Homo sapiens: one gene and its partner. The protein of the gene in region 1 purifies or fractionates together with the protein of each later gene. This does not show direct contact. Each region holds a gene or a part of one and is shown on either strand. Other genes may lie near its edges.

Region 1 (5,576 bases):
AATGCACATACCCTTTGACTCAGCAATTTCCGAGGATGATCTAGGTAAGCATGTTCACCTATCAATGATGTACTGTACTGTACATCACCTGTCAATGACGTACAGTACAGTACATTCACTGCAACACTAATTTTTTTTTTTTGAGACAGAGTCTTTCTGTCGCCCAGGCTGGAGTACAGTGGCGCAATCTCAGCTCACTGCAACCTCTATTCAATCAGGTTCAAGTGATTCTCCCGCCTCAGACTCCCAAGTAGCTGGGGGATTACAGGCGCGAGCCACCGCACCAAGCAAAAAAATTTTAAAAATTAAAAATAAAAACTGACTGATTACTCATCAGTGCTAGGCTAGTTTAGAAGGAATGAGTCTGGAGCAGCACTTCCAATCAGTGACAATCAATTTGGCAATCCCAATCACAGAAAACAAGTGGGGGGATGCACCAAAGCTTATTTTGAAATGCATCTATCAGTAACGGGTGCCAAGTTGCACATGACCTAAGAGGTATTGGCCCAAACAGCCCTTTTCCCCACAAGGCTGGAATTTGTTTAAAACCATTTTTGCCCCTACCCCTCCTCCACACCTTTTTATCCTTTCTATACTCATTTCTAGGACGCTACTAGCTGCCCATCCTAAAGCTACAGGATTAATGCCTCCTACTTTTGGCTGAGAGCTCCCACTTCCAAAAATTAAGTATCAGGATTATTTGTTCAATCTCTGCAGATTTATTGTTGAGTAAACTTATCTTTAAATAATACAGAACAATTAAAGCTAACCAAGTGCAACAGATAAATAAGCCTGCCAGTTATACACATAACTTTATACCAACCATAATTCAGCCAGTCAAAATTCCAAAAACAATCCAAATAACTTCCAACATACTAGCGGTCAAACTACCGAATAAACTTGATGCAGACCAGTATTCCCAAGTTGCAATAGTATCCAATGACTTTGCTGAAATGCATAAAATGGACAAGCCTAGGTATCTGCGCAACCAGCAGGTTTTTTTTTTTTTGTACCAAGGCTAGAGAATGCCTGGTAAAAGCTTGACCAGAAAACTCTCAAAAGTAACTGTTACTGCCCTACTATTCTTAAGATACTTAAAATTTGAATAAAGAACCTACTGGCTATGTAACATTCTAAGGTCTACCAGATGCTACCAAAAAATATTAGCTACATGGAGTGTTGCTAAATATAGCTGAGATTTACAAAACCACTTTAGTCTCATTGACATTTCTGATTGACATCTTTAATTACTTTGCACCAGCCTGGCAAAATAGAAGAATGTTGTGGTTGGGAACTGCAAAACCTAGCTTGAAGATTAACAACAGGTCTTTGCTCAGAATAAGACAATCCATTTGAATAGATGAAGAGTATCTGGGCTGGAAAATTTTGCAAAGCTGGTTTACATGAAGGTGTTTTGTCCCAATTTCAGACAATTCCTCAAACATGCATTTTTTGGTATAAAACTGGTTAACTAATGTAGAAAGCAAAGAAACAAGACCATTGAGAGTAGAACTCCCCATATCTTGGGGAGTCCTAATTAACACTATGCCACCTAGTAGCCTGAAAGCTGCAATTAGTATAAAGATCATCCAGAAATGTTTCTATTTCTCATACATTTAATCAGTTTCGTTTAGTTCCTGTCATGCTCATTTAGACACATCAGTGGTCCTACTTGCTTCACCACTGATCATACAATACCTACTAACACCAACTTCAAACGGATTAGCTAACTTAAGGATCTGTCATGATGCATTCAGGCTGTATCATAAGGGACTCAGGTCATCTTACCCAGAGCTACAAGGGTAAGATGGAATTTTCAAAGTCCCTTAAGATCCTGGCCAAGTTTTATGCATAGAATAGTGATGTTCAAGACTTAACCAACACCTTTCAATTCTGAATGTAGGTATGTATGAATAAGGTTAACAATTATAATGTCTGACTCTCAAATATATCAAATTAAGAAGTGTTAATATTGAACACAAATCAAAAATCTAGTTAGAAACATTTTATTTAAATGTGCCAAATAAAAACCCACATTTTCAGACCATATGATGTTAATACATTCAACAAAATTTATATTATCTTACTGCTGTGAATTTACATAGTAATCCAGATCCATTTTGATTAGATGGTTGAATTATCTTTCCTAGGTTACACTTTACAGACATCACAAATCCCTTATAATAATGTAAACAAAATAACTTTTCCCTAAAGGGTGAACTTGAGAGCTTCAGTCCATTCTTTCAGGACTTGCACTTCTGCGAGGACTTCCTGATGGGGAACGACTAAAAAGAAAAACATTAGGTTTGGATCCAATTAGTGTCAATTGAAACTCTCATGTACATGTACTAACTTTCAATAACTTCAAAGGTGGCCTAAGGTACTAATTTCCTATAGCAAAGACCTAAAAATGACATGAAACTTACATATATTCATCTTTTGTCCCTGGCTTAAGATTAGGCTACCCTGGCCAGGCACGGTGGCTCACGCCTGTAACCCCAGCACTTTGGGAGAGGCCGAGGCAGGTGATCACCTAAGATCAGGAGTTTAAGACCAACCTCGCCAACATGGTGAAACTCCGTCTCTACTAGAAATACAAAAAATTAGCCAGGCTTGGCGGTGGGTGCCTGTAATCCCAACTGCTCAAGAGGCTGAGACAGGATAATTGCTTGAACCCGGGAATCGGAGGCTGCAGTGAGCCAAGATTGAGCCACTGCACTCCAAGCCTGGGGACAGAGCGAAAACTCCATCCCAGAAAAAAAAAAAAATTAGGCTATCCTCCTTGTCAAAATTGCAAGGTCAACCTGCAGTTAAATATGACAACTATTTGAAGTCTTCTGGTCATTAAGAAGCACTAGATAAATATGACAACTATTTGAAGTTTTCTGGTCATAAAGAAGCACTAGGCAGGTAACTATTTCCAAGACTTTTCTCCACACTTTGTATCTATTGTACATGTGGGGAAAAGGCATCTATCTTACCAAAATTTCTACCAAGTACTCACAGGACCAATCACATCTTAATAATCACCCTAACATTTTATGACTAAGTATTTCCAGCAAAAGTATAAACTAATGTTACTGAATCAAAAAAAAAAAGTATTTCAGAAACTTAGCATAGTATTTTAATCTATATAGCACCAATTCTCCAAAGAGCTCAAAGACTGCAAAGCAGTAAGCAAACAAATTCTGCAGAGGCCACACTTGACAGGCAAGATTTGGCAACAAAACATTTAGCTTACCTTCTTTTTGGAGATGGAGATCTGGACTTTGATCGGCTGTCAAAACATGAGAAATTCTATTAAAGAAAGAGTACTAACCAATCCCTTTCTTGTAGTCACCAATACCGTAAAACCCCCAAATGTCCTAAGCTTAAAATGTCAGACTGCACTTAAACTGAAAAACATCCTACCAGTTGTTGCTAACAAAAGCCAATCTTTCAACAACTGTTTTTCAAAAAATGACTCAATTACTACATCATGATTAATCTTTTACATTCTGCTTTAAGCACATCGATTTCAGGATGCTTCTCCATGCACCTATCAGTTCTAACAAGGGCCTCTTTAATATAATCCCCCAAGTCATAAGCTTCTTTCTCACTATAGTTTTACATTCCCTTGTTCAGGGAAAGTCAGCCAGTAATAAATAGGACATACACAAATAAGGTACTGTGTTCCCACTAAAACCTAAGTTTAGAGTTAACACTTAAAATTTCAACAATTAAAAACACTTTGAACTCTTTGGATATTGGTGCCATATAACTAGAAAAGCATAATCAAATTTTTACCCTACCTGCTTCTTGGTCGTGAAATAGACCTGGATCTTGATCTTGACCTCGACGGGGATCTTAATAAAAAAAGTGAAAAACACAATTATATCAATCAGTCCAAAGGAATTTCCTTAACTACTCAACACTGTATTAGGTTGGTCAGGCATAAAGAAGCTAAAACTAAACAAGATGCAACACTTGCCTTATTCTGTCTAACACACTGTCAAACAAAGTGTTACCAGACATAAGGAACCCCCATTTCAATTACTTGTTTCTATCACTCAATTGGTTAGTTTCTGTACAGGTATAACATTCTCAAACACTGTGTAATATCCAAGGGAAATACATGGTTTTCATTTGATGAGACTGGTATGAAGGAAGCAAAACTAACCTCACTTAAGGCACAGATCCCTCAGCTGGGCACTGTGGTACACAATGGCAGTCCCAGCTACTCAGGAGGCTAAGGCAGGATGAAAATAACCAGACCCCTGAACTGAGACTAATTCAGGTGATAAGGCCAGACGAAAAGAAAGCCGCCCCCCATTTGTAAGGCTTTATTCCTGGATCAAGTTATGTTTGAGAGCCATCAATCTGTCAGACAAACCAAATCAGACTGACATATCTATCTTTTAAATTTATCTAAAGAGATGGTTCATAGCTTTCTCAAATAGACCACAAGATTCAGAATTCCTGCATTTAAAGGTTTTGTGCTATTAAACAGCAATTTAACTCCCAGTAGCATTCCGTACCACGGTTTTATCGTTGGTACAGATAACAATATTGTTAATTACATGTTGCAATACTTATTTTACAATTTTTTCCATTCTATCTCCTTTTAAGGCCTTCTACAAATAGTAAAGCTCTGGTTCTTTAGTTTTTTCAGGTCTGAAACGGTCTAAAAAAAAAAATCCACATTCATTTCTGTGTACACACTACTGCCCTAGTCAACTTTCCAGTGTCTCAAATCAACCCCATCATTCCAAAAATGAGAAATGTTTCTACTTGCTTCTGATCTCTTTTCCTGGTGCTAATAGGCCTTTTTGTCGGGAAAATCAATTACCATCTTTCAGAGCTAGTATCATCCAATCTGAAGCCAGAAAAGTTTATAGCAACATGCCTACCCAGAGTGTTGAGTAGAACTGTATTGCTTGGGACCCTTGTCTACCACACGGCCTAACAAGCCTTAAAATCTCTAGTAGCCCTTTTCTTCATCTGTAAAACTAGGTTAATATTTATGTTACAAGTTACACATAAATTCCAAACTTTTACATCTCAAATATTCCCTGAAGCAATCCATTTGAATTATGTCCTTAAGACACTCTACTGATAAGATGTGAACAATCCAAACACAAGTAAGGAAAAAAAGTGTTACATACTGGAAATACCTCGATCCTTTTATAGAACCAGACCTAGATCTTCTGAGTGAAGCTGATCTTGATCTACGAAGAGAGATAGATCTTGATCGTCGAGGAGATGCTGACCTTGACCTAAAATAAAGAACTTTAAGTCCATCTCCACAGTTTTTTTTTTTTTTGGCCTGTTAAGACTTCAACTGGGGAACGGTGCAGTGGCTCATGCCCATAATCCCAGCACTGCGGGAGGATCGTTTGAGCCCAGGAGCTTGAGACCAGCCTGGGAAACAGTGCAAGACCATTTCTACAAAAATAAAAATTAGCTGGGTATGGTGGCAGTGCCTACAGTCCCAGCTACTCGGGAGGCTGAGGTAGGAGAACTGCTTAAACCCAAGAGATCATCAAGGCAGCAGTGAGTCGTGGTTATGCCCCTGTACTCCAGCCCGGGTGACAGAG
Region 2 (4,257 bases), on another chromosome or scaffold:
TGTTTATAAACATAACTTTTACTACAGTAGCATCTAAGGTTTTAAATGTGTTTTACTATTTTCAGATTAGATTTTTAGATATAAAGATGAAAAACTCAGATAACTCAAATGAGATATCTATATCCCTACAACCTAATTGTATATTGAGCAGAAACTGAATTAATATGCTTCCTTGCAAATGGGAAATCACATAGCAGTTACCCCATGGCATTGTGACTAATGGCATCAGGGCAAAAATATGTTACTTTACGATTTACCTGTTAGCAGGTTCTTGTTTCATAAAGGTAGAAAATAAATACAGACAACATCTACTGAGCTAGTTGATTGGTGATGCTTCTACCTTAATATCTTTCCTACTGATTTATAATTCCTTTATTTTCACATATACTAAAACTTTTTAAATGCATGTTAATTCAGATAAAAAGGCATTTTGTATTCCACATAGAATAGTGTTAAGAATTGTGAAGTACACTGAGCTGTCACGGCAAAGTAGTATTTAATGTGCTTATAGGGGTGTGTGTGTGTGTGTGTGTGTGTGTGTGTGTGTGTGTGTGTGTGTGTGTGTGTGTGTGTGTGTGTGTGTGTGTGTGTGTGTGTGTGTGTGTGTGTGTAGGGGGGGACTGTATAATTCACATTTTTAAAATAAAAGTGCTTAAAAATCAAAAGCATTGGGTAAAGAAATAATAGTATCTAAGTATTTGTTCACTTTATAACCCAGAAAATAAAACACCACGTTTATTCCAGAGAAGTTTGTATTTGGGCCTTAAGCTTTTGAAAATAAAGTTTAGAGACATAGCATATGAATACCACTGTAATACACATGAAATATTCTATCAGACCCTAAAAATTAACATAAACTTTTAACTTTCTCATAGTCAACAAAATAGTGGCTGGTTGCCAATTTTATTAGATAAGTTGGTTACAGCATTTTAATTATCATTTTACGTCTATCTAGGTGTAGCTGAAATTCAAAATGCACATCAAAGTAAAACTATATCACAACTCAATGCCATACTAAATGTACTGGCCTCTGCAATAGAATTCTAGTCAGACTTCATTTTTTACTCCCTTCTTATGACCCAAGTGGCTTTAACAGGAATGCAGGACTTAGTGCTGATCATCACACAACATACCACTTTCTTTTTAGAACCTCTACAAAATTTTGAGGGGAGATGGTGGCATTAGCCCTGTGGAACAGATCTTGATCACCTCAATAACACTGGCCCATTATCTGTCCAGCAGAACCCATTGTGAAATAGTACAAGGTGCACAGCCCTTCACTGATTACAGGCAAGTGTTACAGTAGCCTAGCCATAAGGAAGGGGAGTTACATCATAGTACAAAATACAGTATAAAAGCGTTATTTAACATTCCACACTGAAGATTACTCTGATGCCTTCAAACAGTCGTTTGGATGTTAGCCACTTAAACAAATACATCACTAAGGTAAACAATATAAACATACCAAAACCCTGTATGGTTAAATACAATTTCCATGGTACAAAAATCAAAGCCTGGAGATGTTTTTACAGATTGCTTTTTACACAATGTCTTAAATTGCCAAATATTTACAACATTAAAGAGGAAATACATTGTGATGCAGAGTAAAATTCTGAAATGATTATTATAAAACCTCAATCTATCTACGTGAGGCACTCCTGAAGCAAGTGGCATTAGCCATGAGGTCCTTTGGTACAAGGCCCATTGCTTGAAGAACCACAGTAGCTGCTGTGGCTTTAGCATGCTTCTTATTAGGGCTGGCAAAGCTGGGCTGGTAAGCGCTTCCATTTATCAATACCTATTCAAGAAAAACATACAATTGGGTCTGGTAAGGGCTCCATTTCTCAATACCTATTCAAGAAAAACATACAATAAGAACAGCATCAAACTTTAATATCTATTAGCTTTGTATTTTTTCACTAAATGCTAGAAAAATAATTTACAAAAATATAAAACCCATACTATGTAAGTCAAATTATAATCTCAACCCGAAGAACCAAATCATTTGGGAAAGGGACTGCAAATTAGAGCAGGTCTCCAAATTGAGAAAAAGACTGACAAAAGTATTAAATTAATTCCCCACATTCAACTAGAAAATAACAATTGTATACTATATTTTACCCTTTTCCAATTTTTTAAAAAATAGGACATTGACAAGTCGTATTAAAGCACCCTTCAGTGTTTAAAAACCCCACCACTTAACTACAAATACAAACCCCCCACCCATGAACAGAATCTTAATCCTGTGATCATGTTTACCCCTCACCCTCTAAGTCATCACATTAATAAATATATATAATTAATGCAGAAATTCATATTTACCCTAAAGAGAAAATGTTTGCGATGATCAGGGCCACTATCATGGACCAATAGAAATTCAGGTGGTTGCCACCTTCTTTTATTACAGATCTCCATCAAAGCAGACACAGGATGTTTGCCTGCAGGGGGGAGAAATACCCAGTTTTAAATTATTTCCACCAACTTCTGCAACAAATAATGAATTCAAGGTGGGATTAGGGTAAGAGGAAATTCAAAAACGTGCTCTCACCTGACAGATCTTTCATTGCAGCAGAGAAGTTCCCAGACCTCTTTTGTGCTCTTTCTCCTACTGCAACAAGACCTTTAAAAAAAAATTGTTCACTAAATAAATTTCAAAGCACCACTTTAAAACAAAGATCCCTCTGTAGGAGTCTGAACCTCAAAATGTATGCCTTCAAATAAAATCAGCAGATTCCTAGTACACTCGATTTCTCTATCAATCTTCTCTTTCTTCTCTTTTACTGTTTTTCAGCATATAAATTTATATTTAATATTCATAGATCTTGGTATGAGAAATTGTAATAAATACCAAATGTAAACAGAAAACAAAAAGTTAAGTATGGCCAGGCACAGTGGCTCATGCCTGTAATCCCAGCACTTTGGGAGGCCGAGGCGGGTGGATCTCCTGAGGTCAAGAGTCTGAGACCAGCCTGGCCAACATGGTGAAACCCCGTCTCTACTAAAGAAACAAAAATTAGCCGGGCGTGGTGGTGCGCGCCTGTAATCCCAGCTACTCGGGAGGCTGGGGCAGGAGAATCGCTTGAACCTGGAAGCGAAGGTTGCAGTGAGTAAAGATCGTGCCACTGACAGCCTGGGCAACGAGCAAAACTCCATCTCAAAAAAAGAAAAAAAATAGCTTATTGCCAAGTGATTTCTGCAGATTTACTGTCTCTTAAAAAAATAAGCTTCAGTTAAGACTCTTCCAAAAAAGGTTAGGATTTTAAGCCACCAAAAAGGTGAAAACGGTTGTCTCCAAATAAAATAGGTCCCTTTTTTCCTAGCAAACTCTCCTCTCCCTTCCTAACAAATGGGAGATGTTCTCAAAATATGAACATAACCTTTCTACATAACCTCTCTCTCCATAGACTTATTACAAAGGGGATTAGCTACATTGCTAAACCCAAACACTGCTTTCCCAATTCATATACAGGTTGAGTATTCCTTATCCAAAATGCTTGGGACCAGAAGTGTGTCGGTTGATTCCAGGTTTTCAAATATTTGCATTGTATTTAGCGGTCAAGCATCCCAAATCTGAAGAGGCTGAAATCCAAAATGCACCAATGAGTATTTCCTTTGAGCATCATATCAGTATTCAAAAAGTTTTCTGTTTTAAAGCATTTCAGGTTTCCAGATGTGGGATGCTCATCCTGTATGTTACAGGAAATTTTTCAACCTTTGCTAAATAATTCCATGCTAATATAAGCTTTTCTAAACCTATCCTGGGAAATCTGTGGTTCTCTGAGAGCTTACAGTCAGGCCATGTCCCACAATTCCAAGGACAATGCTTCCTGAAATTGTACAATACTTAACATCAAAGTATTTGGTGCAGAGCTAGTTCATTTCCAAATTCATTAAGACAGTTTAACTATTGAAGTTAGCTTCAACTTACTGTTTGATTACAAAGATGAAAATAAATCCCAGTTTTACATTTGTCAGCTTTTATAAATGAGGTTTAAACAAGCTATACAAAAATCATACTGAGCTGGCAAGCCTCTCATGATTCCACTTACATTATTCCAAGGGAAGAAGTTATTTAAAAGACGCCAATTAGCTATCATCTGTGGGAATGATTAAATACTTAGCAACTACATACAAGCTACATAGAAGACACAGTGCTGCCCTGCCCAGGTATCTGAAGGTAAAAGGAAAATACAGTCAATGCTAACAGTTCCAAGATGCCTTAACACAAGGCAACAGGAAGAAGTAACATTATTGTCA

Evidence for each region.
Region 2: the proteins of SRSF7 (region 1) and SON purify together in Homo sapiens (affinity purification with mass spectrometry; 2 studies listed by BioGRID and IntAct, with this or other methods). This does not show direct contact.

The regions. Positions count from the first base shown.
Region 1 is NC_000002.12:38,742,903-38,748,478, forward strand, and holds the end of SRSF7 (serine/arginine-rich splicing factor 7), read right to left. Parts: intron 5,256-5,576; coding exon 5,145-5,255; intron 3,846-5,144; coding exon 3,792-3,845; intron 3,278-3,791; coding exon 3,242-3,277; intron 2,286-3,241; coding exon 2,231-2,285; 3' UTR 697-2,230; downstream 1-696.
Region 2 is NC_000021.9:33,573,959-33,578,215, reverse strand, and holds the end of SON (protein SON), read right to left. Parts: intron 2,621-4,257; coding exon 2,549-2,620; intron 2,439-2,548; coding exon 2,323-2,438; intron 1,852-2,322; coding exon 1,792-1,851; 3' UTR 735-1,791; downstream 1-734. UniProt on the Homo sapiens protein: RNA-binding protein that acts as a mRNA splicing cofactor by promoting efficient splicing of transcripts that possess weak splice sites.